4 linked regions of the Homo sapiens genome follow. Changing the gene in region 3 together with the main gene of any one other region gives a genetic interaction. Each region holds a gene or a part of one and is shown on either strand. Other genes may lie near its edges. The genes, in order: AXL, CDKN1A, MAP2K7 and CKM.

The links.
Region 1: changes in MAP2K7 (region 3) and AXL together harm fitness more than expected from each alone (negative genetic interaction), as found in Homo sapiens cells (one large-scale study listed by BioGRID).
Region 2: changes in MAP2K7 (region 3) and CDKN1A together harm fitness more than expected from each alone (negative genetic interaction), as found in Homo sapiens cells (one large-scale study listed by BioGRID).
Region 4: changes in MAP2K7 (region 3) and CKM together harm fitness more than expected from each alone (negative genetic interaction), as found in Homo sapiens cells (one large-scale study listed by BioGRID).

Annotation. Positions count from the first base shown.
Region 1 is NC_000019.10:41,251,337-41,259,695, reverse strand, and holds part of AXL (tyrosine-protein kinase receptor UFO isoform 1 precursor), read right to left. Parts: intron 7,346-8,359; coding exon 7,253-7,345; intron 6,851-7,252; coding exon 6,729-6,850; intron 6,098-6,728; coding exon 5,988-6,097; intron 3,245-5,987; coding exon 3,085-3,244; intron 2,204-3,084; coding exon 2,067-2,203; intron 144-2,066; coding exon 1-143. UniProt on the Homo sapiens protein: Receptor tyrosine kinase that transduces signals from the extracellular matrix into the cytoplasm by binding growth factor GAS6 and which is thus regulating many physiological processes including cell survival, cell proliferation, migration and differentiation.
Region 2 is NC_000006.12:36,681,714-36,684,772, reverse strand, and holds part of CDKN1A (cyclin-dependent kinase inhibitor 1), read right to left. Parts: intron 677-3,059; coding exon of another isoform or gene 672-676; coding exon 227-671; coding exon of another isoform or gene 128-226; intron 1-127. UniProt on the Homo sapiens protein: Plays an important role in controlling cell cycle progression and DNA damage-induced G2 arrest. Involved in p53/TP53 mediated inhibition of cellular proliferation in response to DNA damage.
Region 3 is NC_000019.10:7,904,616-7,912,974, forward strand, and holds part of MAP2K7 (dual specificity mitogen-activated protein kinase kinase 7), read left to right. Parts: intron 1-1,192; coding exon of another isoform or gene 1,193-1,240; intron 1,241-5,139; coding exon 5,140-5,281; intron 5,282-5,447; coding exon 5,448-5,514; intron 5,515-5,644; coding exon 5,645-5,758; intron 5,759-5,837; coding exon 5,838-5,957; intron 5,958-6,080; coding exon 6,081-6,188; intron 6,189-6,364; coding exon 6,365-6,544; intron 6,545-6,634; coding exon 6,635-6,715; intron 6,716-6,799; coding exon of another isoform or gene 6,800-6,820; coding exon 6,821-6,963; intron 6,964-7,533; coding exon 7,534-7,579; intron 7,580-7,681; coding exon 7,682-7,816; 3' UTR 7,817-8,359. UniProt on the Homo sapiens protein: Dual specificity protein kinase which acts as an essential component of the MAP kinase signal transduction pathway. Essential component of the stress-activated protein kinase/c-Jun N-terminal kinase (SAP/JNK) signaling pathway.
Region 4 is NC_000019.10:45,313,604-45,321,962, forward strand, and holds part of CKM (creatine kinase M-type), read right to left. Parts: intron 6,129-8,359; 5' UTR 6,111-6,128; coding exon 5,918-6,110; intron 4,377-5,917; coding exon 4,222-4,376; intron 1,995-4,221; coding exon 1,862-1,994; intron 1-1,861. UniProt on the Homo sapiens protein: Reversibly catalyzes the transfer of phosphate between ATP and various phosphogens (e.g. creatine phosphate).

The sequences.
Region 1 (8,359 bases), about 33 Mb from region 3:
CATCCATGTTGACATAGAGGATTTCGTCAGGCTCCTGGGCAGGAGGCAAGGCCTTCAGTGTGTTCTCCAAATCTTCCCGCAGCTCTGTAAAACTTGGCCGGTCCTGGGGATTTAGCTCCCAGCACCGCGACATCAAGGCATACCTAGGGCAGCAAAATGAGGGGTGGGAGATTGAGCAGGGACTCAGAAGGGGTGCATTCTGGAAGCCTGGGGACATTTTAGGACACTCAGGGGACTGGGGGCATTTTAGAGGGTTATAGGGAGCCTCAGCAGTTTGAGGCCATCTATGGGGATTTGGGAATTCCCAAGAATTTCTGAGTTGGGTCCTGGGAGACTCAGGAGCTGGGAAGGGTCTCGGGAAACCTGTCTGTATATGGAGTAGTATTCTGATGAGGGTTTGCTAGAACAGACCTTCCAGCTCCCCAGAACAGACTTGCATCAAAGCCTGGCTATGCCACTTACAAGCTGTGCTGGTTTAAAATAGGTCCATAAATTCTTTGACCCTCCTCCCTGCAAAAGACGGAGAATAAATCCTCTCCTCTTGAGCATGGGCAGGACTTAGTGACTTGCTTCTGATTTGGCAGAAGTGATGGTGTGTGTGACTTCTGAGACTAGGTCATAAAAGGCATGTGGCTTCCTCGCACTTTCTCCTGGGTTGCCATGTTGTGAGTAAGCTCAAGCAGTGCCACAAAGGGGTCCACATGGCAACGAACTGAAGCCTCCTGCTACAGCCATGTGAGTAAGCCACCTTGAAAGCAATCCTCCAGTCCCAACCTTCAGATGACTGCAGCCCCCAGTGATATCTTTGTAACTTCATTAGAGATCCTGAACCAAAATCACCCTGCTAAGCTGTTCCCAGTATCCAACTTTCAGAAATTGTGTGAGATAATAAACGTTTGTTGTTTTAAACTACTTGATTTGGGGATATAGATAACAAACACACCAGCTGTGCAATCTTTGGCAAATAAATCACCCTCCCAGACTGGGCGTGGAGGCTCATGCCTATAATCCCAGCACTTTGGGAGGCTGGGACGGGTGGATCATGAGGTCACGATATCAAGACCATCCTGGCTAAGGTGGTGAAACCCCATCTCTACTAAAAATACAAAAAAAATTAGCTGGGCATGGTGGCACACGCCTGTAGTCCCAGCTACTTGGGAGGCTGAGGCAAGAGAATCGCTAGAACCTGGGAGGTTGCAGTGAGCCGAGATGGAGCCATTGTGCTCCAGCCTGGGCGACAGAGCGAGACTCAAGTCAATAAATAAAAATAAATTACCCTCCCTGTAGGACTGGGTTTTCTTATCTGCAGAATGGGAATCATAATGATACCTATCTACATCACATGGCTGTGGTAAGGACCAAATGATTTGACACATGCCAGGCACCTAAAACAGTGCCTTCTAGTCAGTTATATGAAAATGTTAGCTGTTATTTTTACTCGTCTCAGCTCTTGGAGTACCCAAGGTGGACTGAGGAGTCTGACGCCCCAGGCTGTCTCCTCCTGACCCAAAGTCATCCTCTCTTTACCCTCAAAGTGCTAGCTAAATGTCACGGCCTTCTCCGCATACTCCAATATTGCAAAGTTTGGTAAGCATTCCCTGAAGGATCCTGCAAATATCTCAGAGGAGACCTGAGTCTGGAGAAGGCCAATAAAACAAACTGAAGGGTTTTGCAGAGAGTCTCAGGTGTTGAGGAGCATGTCGGGGAAGCATGGTGTGCTCAGGAGTCTGGAATGAGAAGTCTCTGGGAGTGCATGTCCCAAAGGCAGGGCCGCCAGGTAAGACTGTGCTGTTATTCACTACCCAAGGATACCTGGCTTGGGGGTGGGGAGCCAGGGGGCTGATTCAGCCCACACAGACAAAGGAGGAAAGGGTGCCTTTAGCTGATTTGCACCCCACTGGTTAGTGATGGCCCTACTCAGAGCATTGGTGAGGGGCAAGTGGGTCACTCAGCATTCTCAGGGATTCTGTCTGGGTTATAGAGAGTCCTGGACCTGTGAGGGCCATCTGGGGGTAGTCAGGGGTTTGGAATGAATTCTGGGTTGGGGGAGACCTAAGGGTCCTCACAGTCCATCCAGACAGTCCGCAGGCTGCTTCAGGCGATTTCCCTGGCGCAGATAGTCATAAATCTCGCTGTTCTCCACGCCCGGATATGGGGTTTGGCCTCTTGTGGCAATCTCCCACATTGTCACCCCGAAGGACCACTGTGAGGGGCAGAGGGAATTAGACAGTCTCTCCTGCACAGAATCACCCGCACCAATACCCAGGTTCATGGGTACACCCACACTTATGTACACATGTTCACAACCATCCTCTGGGAGCATCACAAGTATTCATAGAAACATAATACTTTAGCCGGGTGCGGTGGCTGATGCCTGTAATCCCAGCACTTTGGGAGGCTGAGGTGGGCGGACTGCCTGAGGTCAGGAGTTTGAGACCAGCCTGGCCAATATAGTGAAACCCCGTCTCTACTAAAAATACAAAAATTAGCTAGGCATGGTGGTGGGCGCCTGTAATCCCAGCTACTCGGGAGACTGAGGCAGGAGAATTGCTTGAACCCGGGAGGCAGAGTCTGCAGTGAGCTGAGATCATGCCATTGCACTGCAGCCTGGGTGACAGTGCGAGACTCCATCTCAAAAAAAGAAAAATATATATATATAAAAAATACTTGACACGGGTATACACATGAATAAGTAACTTTTGTGGATGCATACACATGCTCACCATCACACACATATACACACTTCATGGACACATGAGCTCATGTGCCACTCTGCACACCCTGGCTGTCCACATTCTATGAGTGTGCGCACATGCACGCATAATCACTGCAGCTTCTTCTAACCTAAACTGTCTACATTGCTACCATGCACACGTGGGCCTGTATTTATCCTGGGCATGTACACACCACTATTCAGAGATGCCCACCATACCCCAAGACATGCCCAGCCCATGTGGACAAGCCCCTGCAAAGGGAAGCCCACATGTCCCTGTGACCCTTGCATCCACAGCCACCCAGGCATAGTGTGTGATGGTCAGGCCATGCCCTCCCATGGTTCCCCACTCTTGGCGGGAGTGCACCTACCACATCGCTCTTGCTGGTGTAGACACGGTCAGCTAGACTCTCAATGGCAATCCACTTGACTGGCATCTTGGCGATACGTCCCTGGCGGTAGTAGTCCCCATTGTAGATCTTCTTGGAGAGCCCGAAGTCCGCCACACACACGGACATGTTCTCATTCAGCCTGTTTGGATTGGGGAAAGGAACAGGGTCAGGGCATCAGTCACCTCCACCAGGAAGCCTGCCCTGGCTCTCAGACACATCTGCACCTCCTCCCCTCACTGTCCTGGCTGCGGGTGGGGATCTGTCTCCTAAACCTTCATCCCAGTCCAGAAGGGAACTGCTTTACTTCTTGTTCACTCTGTCAAGTGAGGATGGGACAAAGGGCTTCCTCAGGACTTCCCAATTTTGGCTCTTTGCTAGATTCTAAGGTCCTTCCTTGGGTTTGATTCCTTGATGAAATTTTTTTTTCTTGAAGTATACTGTACATATGGAAATGTGCACAAGTCATAAGTAAGCAGCTCACTGAATTTTCACACACACACACACACACACCCATGTAACCAGCACCCAGATTAAGAAACAGAACATGGCTGGGCATGGTGGCTGGCGCCTGTAATCCCAGCACTCTGGGAGGCCAAGGCAGGTGGATCACTTGAGGTCAGGAGTTTGAGACCAGCCTGGCCAATGTGGTGAAACTCTGTCTCTACTAAAAGTACAAAAATTAGCCAGGTGTGTTGGTGCACATCTGAAATCCCAGCTACCTGGGAGGCTGAAGCAAGAGAATCAGTTGAACCCAGTAGGCGGAGGTTGCAGTGAGCTGAGATCACGCCACTGCACTCCAGCCTGGGCAACAGAGTGAGTGAGACTCCGTCTCAAAAACAAACAAAAAAAAAAACAGGCACAGTGGCTCAAGCCTGTAATTTCAGCACCTTGGGAGGCCAAGGTGGGAGGATCACTTGAGGCTAGGAGTTCAAGACCAGCCTGGAAAACAAAGCAAGACCCTGTCTCTACAAAAAAATTTAAAAATTAGCTGGACATGGTGGCACATGTCTGTAGTTCCAGCTACTTAGGAGGCTGAGGCAGAAGGATAGCTTGAGCCAGGAGTTGGAGGCTACAGTGAGCTATGATCATGCCACTGCACCCCACCCTAAAGGACAGAGTAAGACTCTGTCAAAACAAAAAAGAAAAGAAAGAAAAAAAGGGAAAGAAAGGGAAAGAGAGAGGGAGGGAGGGAAGGAAGGAAGGAAGGAGATAAAGAGAGAGAAAGAGAAAGAAAAGAAAGAAGAAAGGACAGAGAGAAAAAGAAAGAAAAGAAAGAAAAAGAAAGAAAGAGAAAAAAAGAAAAGAAAATCCACAGGACATTCATATGATGGAATACCATACCACACAGCAAAGAAAAAGAGCAAACTACCCCTACACAGATCCATCTCAAAAACATCATGCTGAGCCATAGAAGCCAGACACAAAGCAGTACAAACTGCATGATCCCATTTGTATGACTTTTCAGAACAGGCTAAACTAGCACTGAGAAGTCAGGATAGTGGGTACCACTTGGCGGTAGTGATTGGGAAGACGAAGAGGCATGAAGGAGCCTGCTGGGGCTAAGAAATATTCTTTACCTTCATCTAGTGGTTACATGGGTCTATACCCATAAAAATTCATCGAGCTGAGCTGCATGTGTATATTTTAGTGTATGTAAAATATACATCAATTTTTTTTTAGATGGGATCTTGCCCTGTTGCCCAGGCAGTAGTGAAGTGATACCATCATGGCTGACTTCAGCCTCAACCTCCTGGGCTCTAGCAATCCTTCCACCTCAGCCTCCCAAGTAGCTGGAACCACAGGTATACACCACCATGCCCAGCTAATTTATTTTTTGTAAAGACAGGATTCACTATGTTGCCCAGGCTGGTCTTGAACTCCTGGGTACAAGTGATCCTCCTGCCTCAGCCTCCCAAAGGGCTGGGATTATAGATGTGAGCCACTGCGCCTGGCCAAGACTAATATTCTAACTCTGTGGTTCCATTCCCTCCACCTTCTACCCTCCCCTTACCCTCTATTCTGGCTTTTGGGGGATTTTTTGTTCTTTCTTTTCTTTTTTTCTTTTTTTTTGAGATGGTGTCTCGTTGTTGTTACCCAGGCTGGTCTCGAGGCTCAAGCAATCCTCTCACCTAAGCCTTGGGAATGGCTGGGACTACAGGTTACTATTTTCTTTTTTCTTTCTTTCTTTCTTTCTTTCTTTTTTTTTTTTTTTTTGAGACAGAGTCTTGCTCTGTCGCCCAGGCTGGAGTGCAGTGATGCGATCTCGGCTCATTGCAACCTCCGCCTCCTGGGTTCAAGCAATTCTCGTGTTGGGATTACAGGCGCACACCACCGCACCAGGCTGAATTTTGTACTTTTAGTAGACAGGGGGTTTCACCAAGGCTGGTCTCGAACTCCTGGCCTCAAGTGATCCACCCGCCTCGGACTCCCAAAGTGCTGGGATTACAGGCGTGAGCCACTGCACCCCATCTGGCATATTTTCTGCTTGTCCATTGGTGGGGAGTTTGATTTTCTTATCCAGTGTGGCCGCTTCCAAAGGGCAGCCCCAGGCAAGACACCCAGCATGGAGTGGGACAGAGATGCAGCTCACGTGTCCCCACCCCCATCGGTCACCTCAGCCCCTTTGCTCACCTCATGCTGTGCACTGAGCCCACCTTCTGGTCTCTTCCCTCTCCGCATCCAAATGCTCCTTCCAGATCTCAGTTCAGGACTCACCTCCTCCAGGAAGCCTTCCCAGACCCCCTTACTGACTTTCCTGGTCCTGAGTTCTGACCTGCCCTCAGCGGGTGTCTAGCCCTGCTTCCATCCTAAGAAGGAGGGAGGGAACTCCCTCAGGGAGTGCAGGAGCAGTTGGGGGGGGGGGGTCCCTGAAAGGCACTCACATGCAGTTCCTGGCCGCCAGGTCCCGGTGTATGAATCTCTTGGTACTCAGATACTCCATGCCACTGGCGATGTCTGCCATGAACTTCACTAGCATCTGAGTGGGCAGGTACTGGGGAGCCAAGGCAGGTGGGAGGAGAGGTCAACAGAGTCCTTGATGCGATCCCTCCTCCCTCCATCCCTCTGTGCAAGCCTAGCTCTGCCCGCAGTGGTTTCCCATGGCCCTGACAATTCAACCCAACCCCTCTCCATGGCCTGCAAGGTCCTATAAACTTGCTCCAGCCTTCCTCTTGGACTTGATTGCCTATGTTCTTGCCCTTGACTGACACTCCCACCAGACTCCTGTCTGGTCTTCAGACAAACGATGATCATTCCCACCTCCGAGCCTTTGCCTATGCTGTGCGCTCTGTTGGGGTCGCTTCCTGCCCAGATCTCCAGACATCTCCCCAGCCCCAACTCCTTCACGGTCACCTCCTCGGCAAGATCTTCCACGTCCACCCAAATTCACTGCCTGGCCTCCTTATCTTCCATCCTACTGTATTTCCTTCCTAGCACTTAAACATTTAAATCATCTCGCTTAGGTATTTATTAGCTTGTTTATCATCCGCCCCTCCCCTGCTGGAAGAAATGCTCCAGGAGAGCAAGCTCCTGGTCACCGTGGTCTTCCCAGGGTCTGAGCAGCACTGGGTACCTGATAGATGCTCAGTTAATATTTGTAGACTGAATGATTAAACGCCCCTTACCACTGGCTGGTCCCCGAGCCGGGAATAGAGGAGGAAGCTGTGTAGGTCTCCATGTTTCATGAAAGGTAAGATGACCACAGGTGCTGGGAAGCTCTCTCGTTCAGAACCCTGGAAACAGACACCTGAGCCCCCCAGGTAGCCCTGTCACTCCTGCTGGGCAGAAGGGGAAGCCAAGCCCCCCACCAGCCAGCCTCCAGCCTCTCCTTCTCACTACCCATCCAATCTGGCCACCATATTGTTTGGGGGTAGTGGCAGTGGCAAGGACCAAGCTGCAGAGAAGCTGTTTCCAGCAGAGTTCCCAGGGACGTTTCCGGAGCCCTCCTGGGGACCTCAGCTATTTCTGGGAATGATCAGAGGTCACATTCCAAGCTGAGGGAGACTAGGAGGGGGAAGCCTGCTGACCCTGAAGGAGCGGGGAGCAGGAAGCCTGGAAGTTTGATCTTCCCAGGGCCAGAAGCAGGGCTCTTCCCTCTGCTATGGCCCCCATGGGGCTTGTAGACCCCTTGAATCTGCCCCTCTCTCACCGATGAGCCTCATGACGTTGGGATGGTCAAATTCCTTCATGCAGACCGCTTCACTCAGGAAATCCTCCAGCTCTGACCTCGTGCAGATGGCAACTTGAGGGAGAGAGAAAGGTCGTGAGGAGGAGGGGAGGAGAGGGAGGACTCTCCCTCCACCTCCACTCCATCATCATCATCATCATCATCATCACTCATCTTCATCAAACATGATTAGTAAGTACCAGGCACCATACTCAGCACTTTATATGTGATATGTGTATGTGTGTGTGTCTGTGTGTGTGTATATAATATATATATATATATAAAATATATATTTTCTTTTTTTTTTTTTTTTTAGATGGAGTCTCACTCTGTTGTCCAGGCTGGAGTGCAGTGGTTTGATCTCGGGTCACTGCAACCTCCGCCTCTCGGGTTCAAGCAATTCTCCTGCCTCAGCCTCCTGAGTAGCTGGGACTACAGGCGTGTGCCACCACACCCGGCTAATTTTTTGTATTTTTAGTAGAGACGGGGTTTCACCTTGTTAGCCAGGATGGTTTCGATCTCCTGACCTCACGATCTGCCCGCCTCGGCCTCCCAAAGTGCTAGGATTACAGGCGTCAGCCACTGCGCTTGGCCAACTTTATATATATTAACTCATTTAATCTTCTCAGGTGCTACTATTATCATTCCCATTTTATTGGTTTTTTGTTTTGTTTTGTTTTGTTTTTGTTTTTGTTTTTTATTTTTATTTTTTGAGACAGGGTCTTGCGCTGTCACCCAGGATGGATGCAATCACAGCAAACATAGCTCACTGGAGGTTAGGCTCGAACTCCTAGGCTTGCCTTCCTGAGTAGCTGGGACCACAGGCACGCACCACCATCCCGGATAATTTTTTTTTTTTTTTTGAGATGGAGTTTCGCCCTTGTCCCCCAGGCTTGAGTGCAATGGCGCAATCTTGGCTCACTGCAACCTCTGCCTCCCCAGTTCAAGAGATTCTCGTACCTCAGCCTCCCGAGTAGCTGGGATTACAGGCATGCACCACCATGCCCAGCTAATTTTTGTATTTTTAGTAGAAACGGGGTTTCACCATGTTGGCCAGGCTGGTCTCAAACTCCCCACCTCAAGTGATCT
Region 2 (3,059 bases), on a different chromosome or scaffold from region 3:
AGAAGCTTGGCAAAGGGCCTGGCATAATGAACATTCCCAATAAATGTTAGCTAGTTGGTCTTTGCTGCCTACTTGCTGTGTGACCTCAGGGAGGTTGCTTCCCCTCTCTGGGCCTGTTTCCTTCTACCTGGAGCATGCTGGACCAGGACCAGACAGGTCAGCCCTTGGACCATGGATTCTGAGAATCCTGGTCCCTTACAAAGTCCTTCCGTGCACATGTCCGCACCTGTCATGCTGGTCTGCCGCCGTTTTCGACCCTGAGAGTCTCCAGGTCCACCTGGGGACCCTTCAGCCTGCTCCCCTGAGCGAGGCACAAGGGTACAAGACAGTGACAGGTCCACATGGTCTTCCTCTGCTGTCCCCTGCAGCAGAGCAGGTGAGGTGCCAGGCCGCCTGCCTCCTCCCAACTCATCCCGGCCTCGCCGGGGCCCCGTGGGAAGGTAGAGCTTGGGCAGGCCAAGGCCCCGCACACGCTCCCAGGCGAAGTCACCCTCCAGTGGTGTCTCGGTGACAAAGTCGAAGTTCCATCGCTCACGGGCCTCCTGGATGCAGCCCGCCATTAGCGCATCACAGTCGCGGCTCAGCTGCTCGCTGTCCACTGGGCCGAAGAGGCGGCGGCAGGCCTTGCTGCCGCATGGGTTCTGACGGACATCCCCAGCCGGTTCTGACATGGCGCCTGCAGCAGAGATACAAGGAAGGCCCTGGTCACGGCGGAGATTAGACACTATGTTACCTGGCCGGGCTTTGCTGTGTCACCTCAGGTGACGTCTTCCTACCAGAGGGTCTCTCTCACTCCTTCCAGCTGGTCTTCCTGCTTCCTTCCCACAGGAGGCCTGACCCCCACCAGCAGAGCTCAGCCAGCCTGGCACACCAAGGTCACTGGGAGAGCAGGCAACTGAAGGGCAAGCTAATGTCAACAAAGGCAAGTCTATTGCAAGAGCAAGGACCAGGGTCCTGTTTGCCACCAGGTATTATCAGCTAAAATCAATTTGTTTTCCCCCCAGAGGTGTCCCTCATGGGTGTGAATGCCCCCCAAATATGTGTGAATTGCCAGAGTCCAGCAGTTTCCTAATCGCAGCCCTGGCCAGAAGGTCAATTCCCAAAAGAAGAAACAGTCTGACAGTTCCTCCAGCCTCCTAAGTCCCCCGACCCAGATCCCCAAGTAGGGTAACCCTGCTCTGCCAAGTAAAAGTACCCGGGACTTTGGGGCAAAAAGCACCCGGGTTGTGGTCCTAGCTCTGCCAGTTACTACGTAAGCTTTAAAAAGCCACTTAATGTCTCTAGGTCTCAGTTTCCTCATCCATAAATGGGGCCATGTACAAGTTTAAAGAGCATGGCTACAGACACATACTCAAGAAATTGATCACAGAGTCCATGCAGCAAGGCAGACAGAACAGAGCTGAATGAAAGGCTGTATCCTGGTGGTTAAGCAGGAGGGCTCTGGAGCCAGATCACCTGGGCTGGAGTCCAGGTTTTACTAGGTGACCCTGGGCAAGCAACTTAACTTGTCTGAGCTCTAGTTTCCTCATCTATAAAATGGGGATAGTAATAGTGACTGTCTCAGAGGATAGACATGAGAATTAACTGAGTTAATGTAGGTAACGTGCCAGCAGCACTTCGTATAGAGAAGTGCATTGAAAACAGAAGTATGATTATTCCTCTCTGCCTTCAGTTTTACTGAGCCTCCCCCCTATCACTTCCCCCTGCCAACTACCTCCTTCAGACAGCAGCTGACAGGTGCTGTAGGCTGAGGGCCTTTCCCAAGGATGTCGTCAGGCGGGTGGCCTAGGGGTAAGGAGGGGCCGGGCGGGGCAGCGCAAGGGATGATTTCTCCCAGGCTGAGCCACATCCTGCCAGGCACATCAGGTGATCTGAAGTCTAGACACCTGGCAGCCCCTGCCTCGTGTTGCCTGTGTCCAAGGAAACCGTTTTGCAGGCAAAAAGAAAATTAAAGGTGGCTGGTCTACCTGGCTCCTCTCCTCCCCCTTCAGGAGAGGGAAAACGGAGAGTGAGTTTGCCCATGAGGGAGCCCTGGCACCTACCTGCCTGCTCTGGCTTGACTCCAGGGCTGAGTGACTGCACGACCTTGGCAGCAACTGGATTTTCCTAGGGACAAGTCCCAACTTGCAGTTTCTGGGGGTGAAAGCTCTGCTGAGTCCTCATGAGGCAGGAAGCCCGGGACACATGCCACATCTGCTCCACCCCACCTCACCCCACTGCTTGTGATCAGTGGAGCCCACAGTTTCACGTCCCAGCTGGTTGGGAGAGGAGGCTCTTGGTAACTTCACACCAAGTTTAAAGGGCAGGAGATGGAAGAGATATGAGACTTGCCCCTGAGTCATACAGCTAAAAAGGCCAAAGGCCACTGCCCCATAAAGGGGTCACCCAGTACAGTGGACAGAGCCCTCAAATAACCTCTATCCACCCTCTGCTAGGCATGAGTTGGGATTTATTTATATATTTTTATGTTTGGGGGCTGTTCTAAGCAGTTTAAAAATATCAATCCTCCTAAAAAGTGGATATCTATTAGCTCCCTTTTTACAGAAGAGGCAACCAAGGCTCAGATAAGTTAAGTAACTTGCCTAACATCACACAGTTCATAAGTGGCACAGCCAGGATCTGAACCCAGGCCTGTTTGCCCTGAGTCCTGTGCTGTAGTATTGAACCCCACTCCCTCTCTAATTTTGAGGTTTCTTAACCAGAGAGGCCCATCACAATCACTTGGGGAGGCCAGGGGCAGTGGCTTATGCCTGTAATCCTAATACTCTGGGAGGCAGAGGTGGGAGAATCATTTGAGCCCAAGGGTCCAAGACTAGCCTGGGCAACTAGCTGAGACCCTGTCTCTACTAAAAATAAAAATAAATAAAAATTAGCTGGGTGGTTGGGTGCAGTGTCTCACACCTGTAATCCCAGCACTTTGGGAGGCCGAGGAGGGCGGAGCACGAGGTCAGGAGATTGAGACCATCCTGGCTAACACGGTGAAACCCCGTCTCTACTAAAAATACAAAAAAAAATTAGCCGGGCATGATGGCAGCACCTGTAGTCCCAGCTACTCGGGA
Region 3 (8,359 bases):
GTGACCGTGTCTGAGGTGGGGGGACGGGAGGGGGTCCCTTCTCCCCCTCTTGGCGACAGTGACCATGGCATTGGGCTCAGCAGACCCCCTCCCACATACACCAGGCCCCGCAAATCCCTGTGACCAGTTTCACTGCCACCATCTTGGTGAGCGTGTGGTGTCTGACCTCCAGAAATGCACATCGACCCCCAGCCAGCCCGGTGACTTTGTCACCTGTGTTCAAGTGATGGCTCCCCTTCCCTTCACACCCACACCCACCTGACCTGGGGACACCTGGGGCCAGTGTGACTCTAGGCCTGCTCCCGCCGCGCCCCAGCATACATCCACCTGCTTTCTGATCAGTCCCACCACCTCGGTACCTACCTCCCTGACACCTTGTCATCCTAGATCAGTACCTCTCGCTTCACACACACCTGGCCTGGGAACACTGACCATATCTAGTCTCCCGGCTTTTTCCCCAAGATCCTGGTCTCTAAATCCTCTGGGCTGGAGGAAATTAGATTTTCAAACCCTGTGAACACCACCCCTGACCCATGATCCTTTTTGTGTCTTTCTTGACCCAGTAAAATTCTCTCTTGTCTCCTCTGATGTGACCTTCGTAGTTTATTTAGTTCTCTCTATGGAGTCATTATGGCAGGCGAGAAAGGTACCCCCGTATCTGGGCACCCCACCCATTCCCTGGTCACCCAGCCTGACCTTCACAGCCTGACACCCTCCTGTCCCTCCCTCTCCTGACCTGAGTCAGCGTGGGTTCCTCCTTGGGGAGTCTCTTGGGGGTCCAGAGAAATCATGGAGGTGGGGATTCTGGTGCAGGACACTGCCTGAGACAAGAAGCCCAGCCAAGACACGGGTCCCTGCTAGCCCCTGGGGGCCGCCCTCCCTGGCCCCTGAGTGGATGAGACAGGGTTGAGTCCAGGATCCCGGGTGCCTTCAGGGGTGGCCGTTCCCATGCAGAGCTAGGAGGCCGGTGGCAGGCAGGCCCCCGAGGAGTCCCCTCCAGGCGTCTCTGTCTGTGTCAACTCCATCCCATCCTCCCCGCCCTCCCCATCTCTGTCGGTTCCTAGCCATCTCTGCAGTTCGGTGCCTCCCCCTCCTCCTCGTTTATGATTTGATTTCTTTTCTTTTGGACGAATCAGTCGTTTCTGTTGTGATTTATCGTGGTGTTGTTTTTTTCTTCCTTTTCCCCATCCAGTTATTGTGATCACTCTAAGCCCTGCTCCTGCCCCGTCCCAACGAGCAGGTACCAGCCTTTTTATCATCGCTGCTTGGACATCTGCACCATTGACCTAACCGCTGCCCCGGCCGCAGAATGGCGTCCCCCAGCCCCCATGCTCTGTGTGTGTCCCCATGTCCCTTCCCCTCACTCTCACTTTCTCTCTCACTCCACTCAAGCAGCGGTCAGCCCAGCCCAGCCTCCTCTGCGTCCTCCCTCCTCCTCCCCCTCCCTTACTCCCAGCTCCACTTTGGACTCCCTGGAGGAGGAGGTGGGCTCCCCCACTGAATGGGAGTCTGTGGCCTCCGGGGGTGGGGGGGGTGCACGCCTGTGTGTGTGTAACTGAGAGAACGAGAAAGTTGGGCCTGGTGGGTGGGTGGCCTGTGCCTATGGATCTCTCTCAACAACTAGGTGAACACATAGCACCCCCCGGGTTCCATACCAGCCCTGGGCGCCAGGGACACAGCAGTGAATAGAACAGATGGAGCCCCTCTCCTCTGTAGCGGGGGGCTGCAATAGGGGGGCCCACTGGACAAGGAGCACATTCCCACCAGAGAGAACATTCTAGCTGGGTGAGCGGCCCTGCAGGGGGCCAGCCTGGGGGAACCTCTGGAGACGGTGGGAATTGAACAAAGCCTCTGGGGAGGCCAGGCACGGTGGCTCACACCTGTGATCCCAACACTCGGGGAGGTTGAGGCTACAGGGAGCCATGATCACACCACTGCACCCCAGCCTGGGTGACAGCGAGATCCTGTCTCAAAAATTTAAAAACTGGGCCAGGCGCAGTGGCTCATGCCTGTAATTTCAGTACTTTGGGAGGCCAAGGAGGGTGGATCACTTGAGGTCAGGAGTTCGAGACCAGCCTGGCCAACATGGTGAAACCCTGTCTGCATTAAAAATACTAGAGATTAGGCCAGGCACAGTGACTCACACCTGTAATTCCAGCACTTTGGGAGACCGAGGCGGGTGGCTCACCTGAGGTCGGGAGTTCGAGACCACCCTGACCAACATAGAGAAACCCCGTCTCCACTAAAAATACAAAATTAGCCGGGCATGGTGGCACATACCTGTAATCCCAGCTACTCGGGAGGCTGTAATCCTAGCTACTCGGGAGGCTGAGGCAGGAGAACCGCTTGAACCCGGGAGGCGGAGATTGCAGTGAGCTGAGATCGCACCATTGCACTTCAGCCTGGGCAACAAGAGCAAAACTCCATCTCAAAAAAAAAAAAAACATAAAAGATTAGGTGGAGGTTGCAGTGAGCTGAGATCGCGCCACTGCATTCCAGCCTGGGCAACAGAGCAAGACTCCGTCTCAAAAAAAAAAAAAATTTAAAAAGCGTCTTGAAGGAGTTGGGGGGGGAGAGAAGACAGGGCCGCCAGGGCTCTGAGCGCAGCGCCAGCCTGTGTGGGGCATGCAGGCTGTGCCCCACGCCTGTGTTGGGAGAGAGAGTAGATGGGGTGCCTGGCCCTGTGAGTGGTTGTGAGTATGTGTGTCCGAGGGCAAGGGGGACTCTGTCCCGGCTGCATGGGTGTTAGGTCCACGGCATGCCCCGGGTGTGTGTTGTGCGTGCGTGCACTTGCACGGCATGTGCGTGCATGTTGACATGGCAGCCGGTGCACCTGTGGCTCCTGTCGGCAGACACGTGCCCTCCAGCCTCTCGCTCTCTCTCATCCGTTCTCTTTCTCATCCTCACCCTCTTGCTCTCACTCCACCCTCCTGAGCTGCCATGTGGCCATCACCACCTCTGTGGCCTCTGTTCTCAGGGCCTTTGTGTACCTCCTTCCCCCAGTGCCTACCTGAACCCTCCCTTCCATCCCCCCATGCTCCAGTCTGTGGTCCGGCAGCCTCCTCCCCAGGCTCCGGGGCCACCCTCGGAAGGCCTGGTGGGCTCTGTCAGGGAAGGGGCCCACAGGACTCCTCGAGGGCTGTGGTCGTCAACCGCTGAGTGCAGGGTGTGAGCGGGACTCGGATACTCTCTGAGGGCGGGAACTAGGCAGTGTCTCAAGAGATGCCAGGTGCACAGGGGTTGGGGGCTGGGTTGGGGGGAGCACAGGCCCTCGGGAGCCAGAAGGGGACTGGGGCTGTGGCTCAGGCCATGGACAGAGCAGAGGCGCAGGGACCTGAAGAAGCAGAGGGAGAAGCCTGGCCAACATAGCGAGACCCCATCTCTACTCAAAAGACAAAAATTAGCTGGGTGTGGTGGCGTGTACCTATAATCCCAGCTACTCAGGAGGCTGAGGCAGGAGAATCACTTGAACCTGGGAGGGGGATGTTGCAGTGAGTTGAGATCACGCCACTGCACTCCAGCCTGGGTGACAGAGCGAGAACCTATCTCAAAAAAAAAAAAAAACAGTGGGAGGTGACGTGGTGCTGCAGAGGCGGCAGTGGCCAGGACAGCGGGAGGGGCACGGGAGGTGAGGCCTCTAGGCCAGTCATGAACGCTGGGCCTGGCTGTGTCCCAAGGTCCCCAGAGCCCTTCCCCTGCTCCTGCCTGGTCCTCCAGGAGGGGAGCTAGGGGGCACAGCTCCTGCAGGGGCTGGCAGGACCAGATAGGGGCAATGCTGGGCCTCCTGCATTGGGACTGAGGCGTCTTCCTGCCCCTCCTACTGGCTGAGATCAGGGTCCTGGGCACACGGGAGGGACGGGGTTTAGCTGCCAGCATGGAGCGGGTTTGTCTGTTCATATTAGTCCCTGGGCACCAGTCACCAGGAGCCTGCAGAACTGTGGGGAGAAAAGGTGGACGAGGCAGGAGGAAAAGAGGGGAGAGGGGCTTGTTGGCTGAGGGCTTTGGAGAGCGGCAGGCCCCAGCTCCTGTGGGAGGGGCACCTTGGTAGGTGTGTGTAGCCGTTGTCAGGGCCTCTAGGATGTGACGTGTCAGGATTGGCTCCTCTGGAGGCCACGTTAGCATCCCGGCCTCTGTTCCTGCACCCTGTTGCCAGCCCAGCCAGGGAGACCCTAGCTCCTCCGGGAAGCTGCCCTCCTGTCCCAGGCCCCTCTCTGGCCTGTCTCTGCAGCGCCTCCTCTGGGCACCTGGGCCCTAGTCTTGGTTCCTGTCTGTCTGTCTGTCTCCTGCCCTCCCACCCCTAATGCCGCCTGCCCACCCCAGGGTGCCTGCTGCCTGCCCGCCGCCTGCCCACCCGCTGTAGCATGCCCGAGCTGCCCGCATGCAGGCTGCTGGATGAGCCAACCCCCGCCTGGCCCAGCATTGGCCCCACCTGGTCCCGCCAGCCCCTGCAGGAGCTGTGCCCCCGAGCTCTCCTCCCAGAGGATGCAGGCCCCCTGAGGTCCTGTCCTGCCCCCATGGGCCCCAGCTCTGCAGGCCAGGCCAGGAGGCCCTCATGTCAGCCCACTGGCCCGAGGGGGGCCCTCCCTGACCCCGGAACAGAAGATAGGGCAAGGCAGCCTGAAGCCTGGGTCTCGTGCCCGCTGCCTCCCCAGCGTGGCCCTGCTCGCTCTTGTCTGGGAGCCAACTTCAGTGCTACCAGCAGAGCCACAGCCTGGGCCAGCCCTGGCAGGCACTCCGCCCTGGCCTATCCATCCTGTGGGTGCTGTGGCCCTGGGCCTGCTTCCTGGGCAGAAGTGGGAGGAAGTGCACACACCTGTCAGGGAGGCCCCCTGGCCGAGGGACACCTCAGGTCCCCATCTCGTTTCTCCGTCAGCGTAGACTTGGGGCTCCCTCTCCCCTGCTAGCCTCCTCCATCTCTTTCCAGGTCAGGGGATGAGACAAGGGACCCTGAGAACAGTCTGGGGTGGGAGGGAGACCCCAGCTCCTCCAGCCCAGCAGGGCAGGGGGCTGTGCCAGCCTAGCTCGGGAAACCCAGGAGGGGAAGGTGAGGGTCCCGACCCCTCCCTGGAGTGCCAGATGTGGAGCTGACACCAGCTGGGCGCTGACCCCCCTCCCTGCCACTGGTTCTCACCCCCCTAGCCCTGCAGCTCCCGCTGGCCAACGATGGGGGCAGCCGCTCGCCATCCTCAGAGAGCTCCCCGCAGCACCCCACGCCCCCCGCCCGGCCCCGCCACATGCTGGGGCTCCCGTCAACCCTGTTCACACCCCGCAGCATGGAGAGGTGAGCCAGGGGCCCAGCAGGGTTGGGTGGGAAGCAGCATTGAGGGGCCACCGTGCCAGCCCTGGGAGGAGGGTGGTTAAACCGGTGGGAACCCCGGTATGGGGGACTGGGGTGGCCAACCTAAGGTCAGGACCCACCTCCACCGGCACCTGCTCCATGTCCCCAGCATTGAGATTGACCAGAAGCTGCAGGAGATCATGAAGCAGACGGGCTACCTGACCATCGGGGGCCAGGTACCACCTTCACTGTGGCGGGGAGAGGGAGGAGGCCCAGCCAGGCTGGACCCATCCTGGGAGCGCCAGTGGGGGGCAGGGGGCGGTGGCAGAGGCCCCAGGGACCCTCCAACCCTCCCTCTCCTCCCAGCGCTACCAGGCAGAAATCAACGACCTGGAGAACTTGGGCGAGATGGGCAGCGGCACCTGCGGCCAGGTGTGGAAGATGCGCTTCCGGAAGACCGGCCACGTCATTGCCGTTAAGGTGAGCCTTGGCGGCTACCCCGGCTGCGCCCCACACCCCAGGCCGGTGCTGAGGCTCCCTCCTGTCCCTGCCTGTGCAGCAAATGCGGCGCTCCGGGAACAAGGAGGAGAACAAGCGCATCCTCATGGACCTGGATGTGGTGCTGAAGAGCCACGACTGCCCCTACATCGTGCAGTGCTTTGGGACGTTCATCACCAACGTGAGTACCTGGCCGCGCCCTGCAGCGTCTCCTCCTCCCTCACCCCTGCCCCTTCCTAGGGAGCAGAGCCTCTGGGGGGTGGGCCGGAAGACACAGCTCCCCCGGGTGCCCCTCTCCCTGCAGACGGACGTCTTCATCGCCATGGAGCTCATGGGCACCTGCGCTGAGAAGCTCAAGAAGCGGATGCAGGGCCCCATCCCCGAGCGCATTCTGGGCAAGATGACAGTGGCGGTGAGTGACCAGGCGGGGCTTGCACTGGGCAGGATGACAGAGGCGGTGAGTGACCAGGCGGGGCGTGCACTGGGCAAGATGACAGTGGCGGTGAGTGGCCAGGTGGGGCGTGCACCGGGCAGGTGGCCTTGGGTCTGTGCCCCCTGCCACATGCACCCCCCTCTGCGTGCCTGCAGATTGTGAAGGCGCTGTACTACCTGAAGGAGAAGCACGGTGTCATCCACCGCGACGTCAAGCCCTCCAACATCCTGCTGGACGAGCGGGGCCAGATCAAGCTCTGCGACTTCGGCATCAGCGGCCGCCTGGTGGACTCCAAAGCCAAGACGCGGAGCGCCGGCTGTGCCGCCTACATGGCAGTGAGTGGGGGCCCCCCAGCGGGGGAGGGGGTGGGGGCTGGGAGGCCGGCCCCAGCCTTGGAGATACGTCTTCTCCTCCCCCCCCTGCAGCCCGAGCGCATTGACCCCCCAGACCCCACCAAGCCGGACTATGACATCCGGGCCGACGTATGGAGCCTGGGCATCTCGTTGGTGAGTTGGGGCCCTCCCCTGTTCTCCAGCCAGGAGTGAGGGCTTCTGGGGGACTCGGAGGGAGGAGAACATAAACCTGTCCAGCCCTGCCCGTCTCCCTCCCAGGTGGAGCTGGCAACAGGACAGTTTCCCTACAAGAACTGCAAGACGGACTTTGAGGTCCTCACCAAAGTCCTACAGGAAGAGCCCCCGCTTCTGCCCGGACACATGGGCTTCTCGGGGGACTTCCAGTCCTTCGTCAAAGACTGGTGAGAACCTCCCTCCACTTGGGAGGTCAGGGACAGCCCGCTGCTCTGGGCAGCTGGGGAGGCAATGGCAGGAGGGGAATGGAGGCCGCACCCTGGGATGGGCGGATGCGACTGTGGGCGGGCTCCTGGCTGGCGGCTGCCACAGGAGCTGGAGCTGGTGCCCAGGGAGCCATGAGCTGGGTTTGGACCTAGCCTGAGGGGACAGCCAGCCCTGTGGCATTTGGCGGGGTGGCTGTTGGAGATTGTGAGCACGCTTCTGCAACAAGCACAGCTACAAGTTCAGGAGGGCCATGTTCGATTCTCTCAGGGGAGCCCCACCCACCTTTCTGGGGGACCTCAGCCAGCTCTGGCCCCCCAAGCCAGGCCCTTGCCACCTGGCCCTAGGCCAGGAGGCTCCGGGACTCACAGTTGCTCCCCGCTGTCAGCCGGGGTCCTGAGGACATCCACAGCTCCTTCCCCCACACACATCTTGGGGACCCCTGGCCCCTTGGGGAGGGCCTGAGCACAGGGGTGGGGCCGGCATCCCCTCCTCCCTCGTTCTCACATCTGTCTTCCCTTCTCTTGCTCTAGCCTTACTAAAGATCACAGGAAGAGACCAAAGTATAATAAGCTACTTGTGAGTACCTGAGCCCTCCCAGTCCCCGTCCTGTCCCTGCGGAGGCGCGAGGCCAGGAGGGAAGACCGTCTCCTCCTAAGCCCCACCCCCTCGGGCCCACAGGAACACAGCTTCATCAAGCGCTACGAGACGCTGGAGGTGGACGTGGCGTCCTGGTTCAAGGATGTCATGGCGAAGACTGAGTCACCGCGGACTAGCGGCGTCCTGAGCCAGCCCCACCTGCCCTTCTTCAGGTAGCTGCTTGGCGGCGGCCAGCCCCACAGGGGGCCAGGGGCATGGCCACAGGCCCCCCTCCCCACTTGGCCACCCAGCTGCCTGCCAGGGGAGACCTGGGACCTGGACGGCCACCTAGGACTGAGGACAGAGAGTGGGGGGTGCCCACCCACCCCCCCCGCCCCGGGCCTACCAAGCCCCCGCCCTTCCCACCCCGGGGTCAGCCGGCCGTGTGCGTCCCCCGACAGACACTGTGAACGGAAGACAGCAGGCCGCGATCAGAGTCGCTGTTCATTCAGCCGCAGCCTCTGGGCCGGGGCGGCCCCCAGGGGCCAGGAGAGAGCCCTGGAGTCCCGCAGCCACCATGCACGCTCCCAGCGTGCTGTGTCCTTCGCCACTCCCACGCGCCCGTTCCTCTTCCGTCGCCCTCTGTCCCCTGCTCTACCTCTCTGTCCTTGTCTGGCTCTCCCGTCACCCTCCCTGCCTCTGTCTCTCTTCTGGCCTGAGCCTGGGCCCAGCCACCTCCTGACGGGTCCCCTGGGTCTGCATAGGTCTCCCATGGCGCAA
Region 4 (8,359 bases), about 37 Mb from region 3:
TGGGAGGCTGAGGCAGGCAGATCACCTGAGATCAGGAGTTTGAGACCAGCCTGGCCAAGATGGCGAAACCCCGATTCTACTAAAAATACAAAAATTAGCCAGGCGTGGTGGCGCATGCCGGTGATCTCAGCTACTTGGGTGGCTGAGACACGAGAATTGCTTGAACCACGAGGTGGAGGTAACAGTAAGCCAAGATTGCACCACTGCACTCCAGCCTGGGCGACAAGAGTGTGGCTCCATCTCAAAAAAGAGATTCTTTTCAAACTATTACTGCTGGCCAGGCACTGTGGCTCACACCTGTAATGCCAGCACTTTGGGAGACCAACATGGGAGGATCACTTAAGCCCAGGAGTTGGAGGTTATGGTAAGTCATGATTGCACCACTGCATTCCAGCTGGGCAACAGAACAAGACCCTGTCTTGAAAAGAGAGAGAGAAAGAGAAGGAAGGAAGGAAGGGAGGAAGGGAGGGAGGAAAGAAGGAAGGAAGGAAGGACGGAGAAGAAAAGGGAAGGGAAGGGAAGGAAGGGAGGGAGGGAAGGAAGGGAAGGAAGGGAGGAAGAAAAGAAAGGAAAGGAAGGAAGGAAGGAAGGAAGGAATTGCCGCAGCCATCTCAACCTTGAACGACAACCGCCCTGATCAGTCAGCAGCCCATCAACATCAAGGCAAGGCCCTACACAACAGAAAGGTTCCAACTTGCTGAGTCCTCAAATGATCACAACATTTTTAGCAGGATTTTAAAATTAAGGTATGTACTTTTTTTTTTCTAGACATAATGCTATTGTGCACTTAACAGACTACAGTATAGGATAAACATAACTTTTTTTTTTGAGATGGAGTCACACTCTGTCCCCCAGGCTGGAGTGCAGTGGCGTGATCTCAGCTCACTGCAACCTCTGCCTCCCAGGTTCAAGCGATTCTCCTGCCTCAGTCTCCCAAGTCGCTGGGATTACAGGTGTGTGCCACCAGACCCAGCTGATTTTTGTATTTTTAGTAGAGATGGGGTTTTACCATGTTGGCCAGGCTGGTCTCAAACTCCTGACCTCAAATGATCCACCTGCCTCAGCTTCCCAAAATGCTGGGATTACGGTGTGAGCCACTGTGCCTGGCCTCTTTTTATTTGTTTTTGAGGCAGGTTCTCACTCTGTCACCCTGGCTGGAGTGCAGTGGCACAATCACGATTCACTGCAGCCTCAACCTCCCGGGCTCAAGTGATCCTCCCACCTCAGTCTCCTGAGTAGCTGGGATGACAGGTGTGTGCCACCACTCCTGGCTCATTTTTGTCTTTTTTGTAGAGACAGGGTCTTGCTGTATTGCCCAGTCTGGTCTTGAACTCCTGGGCTCAAGCGACCCTCCCTCCTAGGCCTCCCGCACTGCTGTGGGAGCCACTGTGCCCGGCCTCAACTCCTCCTATCTGAGGTGGCTCCCCTCGGTCATTCTCCACCACACCCATGTCTTGGCTTCATGGCACTTTTGAATTATCTTGTTCATCTGTGGGTTTCTGTATTTCCTCTTGTCTCCCCACCAGCTGAACACTCTGTGAGAACAGTGAGGGACCCCTATCTCCCCACACAGGGCAAGAACCCCTGGAAATGTGTGCTGGATGAACGGATGGCAGGACGCTGGGGGCAGCCAGGTGTCTGCGTAGGTCTTCTCAGGGGCCGTCGGGTCTGGACAGCATCCCTGAATCTCCAACACAGCAGGTAATGCTGACAGCCCGCGCCATTCCCCAAGCCCCCACGATTTACCAAGCTCTTCCCCTACTTTGAAAAGCGGGGGCCCAAAGAGACCCGAGGACCTGCCCATGGAGGAACAGAGCCAGGGCTGGGTGACCCCAGCAGTGGACGGGGTAGGGGCGCTCACCTTCCACAGAGAGCTTCTCCACCGCCCGGCGCTCGCCACGGGAGCAGTGTGGGGGCAACGTGTAGCCCTTGATGCTGCGGCCAGTGCGGACGCGGCTGCTGAGCACGTAGTTAGGGTCCAGGTCGTCTCCACCCTGGAGAGCGGGTGGGAGATCAGGACCAGGCAGATCCTCCGCCCTCTCCAGCAAGCCCAGGTCTCCCCCAGATGCTCCCCTCAGTCTCCCTGTTGCTTCCTTTGCCTTCTGCATCCTCACTGATTGGGTGTGTGGAGCCTCTCCCCGCCACCCATACCTGGGCTCTGTCTCTCCCTTCTCTGTCTCTCTCCCCTCTCCTATCTCTGTTTTTCTTTATACCTCTCTCTCCCCATCTTCGTATATTTCTTTTCCTTTTTTTTCTTCGAGACAGGGTCTCTCTCTGTCGCCCAGGCTGGAGTGCAGTGGTGCCATCATAGCTCACTGCAACCTCAAACTCCTGGGCTCAAGCAATTCCCCTGCCTCAGCCTCCCAAGTAGCTGGGACTAACAGGTAGGTATATGCCACCATGTTCGGCTAACTTAAAATAAATTTTTTATAAATAGAGACAGGGGCTGGGCGCGGTGGCTCACACCTGTAATCCCAACACTTTGGGAAGCCGAGGTGAGCCAATCACCTGAGGTCAGGAGTTCGAAACCAGCTTGGCCAACATGGTGAAACCCCATTTCTACTAAAAATACAAAAATTAGCTGGGCGTGGTGGTGCGCGCCTGTAATCCCAGCTACTCAGGAGGCTGAGGCACGAGAATCACTTGAACCTGGGGATCAGGGGTTTCCGTGAGCTGAGATCGAGCCACTGCACTCCAACCTGGGTGACAGAGTGAGATTCTGTCTCAAAAAAAAAAAAAAAATAGAGACAGGGTGTCACTATGTTGCCCAGGCTGGTCTCAAACTCCTGGGCTCAAACAGTCCTCCTGCCTCAGCCTCCCAACGTGATGGGATTACAGGCATGAGCCACCATGCCTAGCTAAATTTTTAGGCTTTTTTTTTTCTTTTTTTTGGGCAGAGACGGGTTCTTGCTATGTTGCCCAAGCTGGTCGTGAACTCTCCTGGCTTCACGTGATCCTCACACCTCAGCCTCCATAAGTGCTGGGATTACAGGTATAGCCACTGCACCCAGCCTTTCTGCCCATTTCTGTTTCTCTTCCTGTCTCCCTTTCTCCCACTCTCCTTGTCTGTGTCTGACTGCAACTGCGTGTGTCTCTCTCTCCCTGTCTCTCCTGCCTTCTCTGATGCTCCCTTCTGTCTCCCTCTGTGTCTCTGCCTCTCCCCCCACCCTTTTTTTTTTAGGCAGAGTCTCGCTCTGTCACCCAGGCTGAATAGCTAGGATTATAGGTGAACACCAGCATGCCTAGCTAATTTTTGTATTTTTAATAGAGACTGGGTTTCACCGTGTTGGTCAGGCTGGTCTCGAACTCCTGACCTTATGATCCGCCCACCTCAGCCTCCCAAAGTGTTGGGATTACAAGCGTGAGCCACTGTGCCCGGCTATGCCTCTTCCTTTTCTACATGCTTTTGTGCCTTTCTTCTCCCTCTCCCTCTCCTTTGTCTGTCTGTCTCCTTGGTTGTCTGTGTCTCCTTGGCTGTCTCTGTGTCTCTCTGTCCCTCTCTCTTTCCTTTTTTTATTTTCTGAGATAGAATCTTGCTCTGTCACCCAGGCTGGAGTGCAGTGGCATGATCTCAGCTCACTGCAGCCTCCATCTCCTGGGTTCAAGAGATTTTCCTGCCTCCACCTCCTGAGTAGCTGGGATTACAGGCACGCGCCACCATGCCCAGCTAATTTATTTTATTTATTTATTTATTTATTTTTTGAGACGAGTTTCGCCCTTGTTGCCCAGGCTGGAGTGCAATGGCACGATCTCTGCTCACCACAACCTCTGCCTTCCAGGTTCAAGCGATTCTCCTGCCTCAGCCTCCCACGTAGCTGGGATTACAGGCATGTGCCACCACACCCAGCTAATTCTGTATTTTTAGTAGAGACGGGGTTTCACCATGTTGGTCAGGCTGGTCTCAAACTCTCAATCTAAGGTGATCTGCCCGCCTTGGCCTCCCAAAGTGCTGGGATTACAGGCGTGAGCCACCGCCGTGCCCAGCCCTTTTTTTTTTTTTTAAAGACAGAGTTTTGCCATGTTGGCCAGGCTGGTCTTGAACTCCTGACCTCAAGTGATACGCTCGCCTCAGCCTCCCAATGTCCCTCTCTCTTTCCATCTCTCTGCTTCTCCACACCTCTGTGTCTCTCTCTGTCTCTGTATTTCTCTGTCTCCCCCCATTTCTCCTGTGATCTCTCTCCTCCTCACCCCTCGGCCCTCCCCTCCTGCGCAGACACCGACCTTGAGGTTTTCATGGTTGAGGTCAGTCTTGTGCTTGTCAGTGGGTTTGTAGCCCCCGTGGCGATCCGAGATGATGGGGTCAAAGAGTTCCTTGAAAACTTCGTAGGACTCCTCATCACCAGCCACGCAGCCCACGGTCATGATGAAGGGGTGACCTGGAGGGGTGGGGGTGAGGTCAGAGCTGCTTGTCCCCAGCAAACAGGGCGTGGGCTTGTGGGCTCAGTGGAGCCTGTGTGGACATGTGTGTCGGGATGGGGGCGGGTACATTCAATACCTCTGGGTGGGAATTGAGAATCATAAGGGTTGGGCACAGTGGCTCATGCCTGCAATCCCAGCACTTTGGGAGGGTGAGGCGGGTGAATCTCTTGAGGTCAGGAGTGTGAGACCAGCCTGGCCAACAGGGTGAAACCCCATCTCTGCTAAAAATACAAAAATTAGCTGGGTGTGGGGCACACACCTGTAATCCCAGCTACTCAGGAGGCTGAGGCATGAGAATTGCTTGAACCAAGGGAGTGGAGGTTGCAGTGAGCCAAGATCACACCACTGCACTCCAGCCTGGGTGACAGAGCAAGACTCTGTCTCCAAAGGAAAAAAAAAAAAAGAGAGAACACTGAGGACTGGTGGGAACTGGGAGGGAAGGCTGGGAGAGGTCAAGGTGGCTGGGAGGGGTCAAGGTGGGAGAGAAGAAAGAGTGCTGGGGGCGGGGTCAAAGGAGAAAGGGGAGCTTCAGAGGGTACATGGTGCTAAAAGCATCAGCACCTCGGAAACATTAGCACCCAAAGTCATGACATCTTAGCCTGAAATGTTAGGATCTCAGGCTACCACCGTACCACAGAGGGTCAGGAGGGTAAGAGACTTGAAAGACCCTCTTGTTTCCCAGTGGAAAAACAGGGGCCAGGAGAGAGGGGCTTCTCCCCGGCATCACACAGTGAGCTGGATGTGAGGGGCACTAGAGCCTCCCCTCCACTCCCAGCTCTCTTCGCCTTGCAATGTCCTTTGAGAAACAACCATAACATTAATAACATCCCCTGTCAGATTCTTTTTTTTTTTTTTTGAGACAGGGTCTCACTCTGTGGCTGGAGTACAGTGGCGCGATCTCGGCTTACTGCAACCTGCACCTCCCAGGCTCAAGCGATCCTCCCACCGCAGCCTCCTGAGTAGCTTGGACCACAAGCCCTCATCACCACACTTGGCTAATTTTTTTGTATTTTTTGTAGAGACAGGGTCTTGCTATGTTGCTCAGGCTGGTCTCAAACTCCTGGCCTCAAGTGATCCTCCCACCTGGGCCTCCCAAAGTGCTGGGATTACAGGCATGAGCCACTGCACCTGGCCCCCCTGTCAGAGCTTGAGCACTCACTTGGTGCCAGGTGCCACTCTAAGCACTGCACAGCCATTGACTTGTGTTTTCACAACGTGGGCGCCCATTTTTCAGATGAGGAGACTGAGGTTCAGGAGGTGAACCGACCTCCTTGGGGATCTCACATTATTCTCGTGCATGTTTATTGCGTGGTTTGCTGAGTACCTCGCACTGTCCCAAGCCTTTATGTATATTAATGCATTGATTCCCACAACAGCCCCATTTTACAGATGAGAAAACTGAGGCCCCCCCCCCTTCAAGGGTGGTGGGATTGGGGCATGGCCGGCAGCCTCCAGAGCCCCCATGTAGCCCCTTCAGTGCTCCACTGGGGAGGCTCACCTGGGTTGTCCACTCCTGTCTGGATGACATCGTCTACAGTGAAGCCAGATGGAGTCTCCTTGTCCCGCAGCTTCTTGTAGAGTTCAAGGGTCAGTACCTTGGCCATGTGGTTGTTATGTTTGCTGAGGTCGGGGTACTCCTCCTCAGGCTTGTAATTCAGCTTGAACTTGTTGTGGGTGTTACCGAATGGCATGGTGGCGGTGTAGGAGACCTGATGGGCAGGGCAGGAGGGGAAGATTGAAGATTAGCTGGCATCTTTTTTCTTCTTCTTCTTCTTTTTTTTTTTTTGAGACGGAGTCTCGCTCTGTCACCCAGGCTGGAGTGCAGTGGCACGATCTCGGCTCACTGCAAGCTCCACCTCCTGGGTTCACACCATTCTCCCGCCTCAGCCTCCCGAGTAGCTGGGAATACAGGCGCCCGCCACCACGCCGGCTCATTTTTTGTATTTTTAGTAGAGACGGGGTTTCACCATGTTAGCCAGGATAGTCTTGATCTCCTGACCTTGTGATCCGCCCGCCTCGGCCTCCCAAAGTGCTGGGATTACAGGCGTGAGCCACTGCACCCGGCCTTTTCTTCTTTTTTTTGAGATGGAGTCTCACTCTGTTACCCAGGTTGGAGTGCAGTGGCGAGACCTCGGCTCACTGCAGCCTCCACCTCCCAGGTTCAAGAGATTCTCCTGTCTCAGCCTCCTGAGTAGCTGGGATTACAGGCGCACACCACCATGCCTGGCTAATTTTTTTGTATTTTTATTAGAGATGGGGTTTCACCATCTCTACTGGTTGGCCAGGCTGGTCTCGAACTCCTGGCCTCAAGTGATCCACCCGCCTCGGCCTCCCAAAGTGCTGGGATTACAGGCGTGAGCCACTGTGCCCCGCCTAGCTCGCATCTTGCAGACAGCAGCAAGAGAACTGGGCAAGGCGTTGGGGTCAGGCAGGCTGTGTAACTTGGAGCAAGAGAAATCCTCTCTCTGAGCCCCTGTGTCTCAGCAGGAAGGCATCCGGAGTCTTAGATCAAGGGCCTGGCTCTGCCGTATCCCAGTTGGGTGAGCCTGGACTAGTCATTCTTGCTGGAAACTCAATTTCCCCAGGTGGAAAACGGGCCCCTCCCGGAGGCTGGAAAAATATTTTGTGTGGGTAAGAGTGTAGGTTCTGGAATCAGCCCAGGGTTTGATTCCCAGCTCTGCTACCTACAACCAGCTGTGTGGCCAGGGGCAAGTTGCTTAACCTCTGTGCCTCAATTTACTCATCTAGAAAATGAGGATCCTAACAGCACTTGCCGCATGGGAGTGTTGAAAAGATTAAATGTGTGAATACAGGTGTAGCTCTCGGAACAGTGCCTGGTACACAATAAGCATTATTTCACTTAGCTGCTATTATTATTATTATTATTATTATGTTTGAGACAGAGTCTCGCTCTGTCGCCCAGGCTAGAGTGCAGTGGCATAATCTCAGTTCACTGCAACCTCCACCTCCCAGGTTCAAGCAACTATCCTGCTTCAGCCTCCTGAGTAGCTGCAACTACAGGCGTGTGCCACACCTGGCTATTTTTTTTTTTGGTATTTTTAGTAGAGTTGGGGTTTCGCCATGTTGGCCAGGCTGGTCTTGAACTCCTGAACTCAAGTGATCCGCCCACCTCTGCCTCCCAAAGTGCTGAGATTACAGGCATGAGTCACGGCACCTGGCCTGTTGTTGTTATTTTAAAGGTTCGTGCGAGGAGCTGGTGAGAAGGTGGAGGTGAGGGTGCTGCTGGGAGTATGTGAGCAGGTTCTTGGATTATCAATCCAAAGACAAAGGGCTGGGTCGGGGGAGGGCTGGGTAGCTGCCCCCACCTCTGCCTGCTGACAGTTCTCCCACAGGGCTCAGAAGGGAAGAAAAGCTCAGCCTCTGGGTCGTCAGAGGCAGGTTCAAATCCCACCTATGCCATTTCCCTGCTGTGTGACCCCAGGCCAGTCACTAGGCCTCTCTGGACCTCTGTCTCCTGTGAACTGAGCCTGCCCCGTAGGATTGCCAGGATCCTCTGAGCTTGGCCATGAGGTTGGCTGAGCACAGGCCCTGGCATGGAGTTGGAGCCTGGAACCCTGGTGGCTGCTATTATTGTTATTTGTTATTACTACTTTTTTGCAGAGATGGGGTCTCACTATGTTGCCCAGGCTGGTCTGGGACTCCTGGCCTCAAGTGATCCTCCAGCATCGGCCTCCCAAGATGCTGGGATTATGCGTGTGAGCCACTGCGCCAGGTCCTACTGTTATTATTATTTTATTCACTGGACCCAGAAAGGAGAAGGGACCCAGAAAGGAGAAGGGGCCTCCAGCAGCGGTGGGAGACGGGGATGGGAAGCAGGTGGGATTGTGGGAGGGAGATTGGGACCACGGTGAGCTGAAGCCAGGGAAGAGGAACAGGGACCCGCCAAAGACCTTGGGTGCTGCTGTCCAGGGTGGTTATT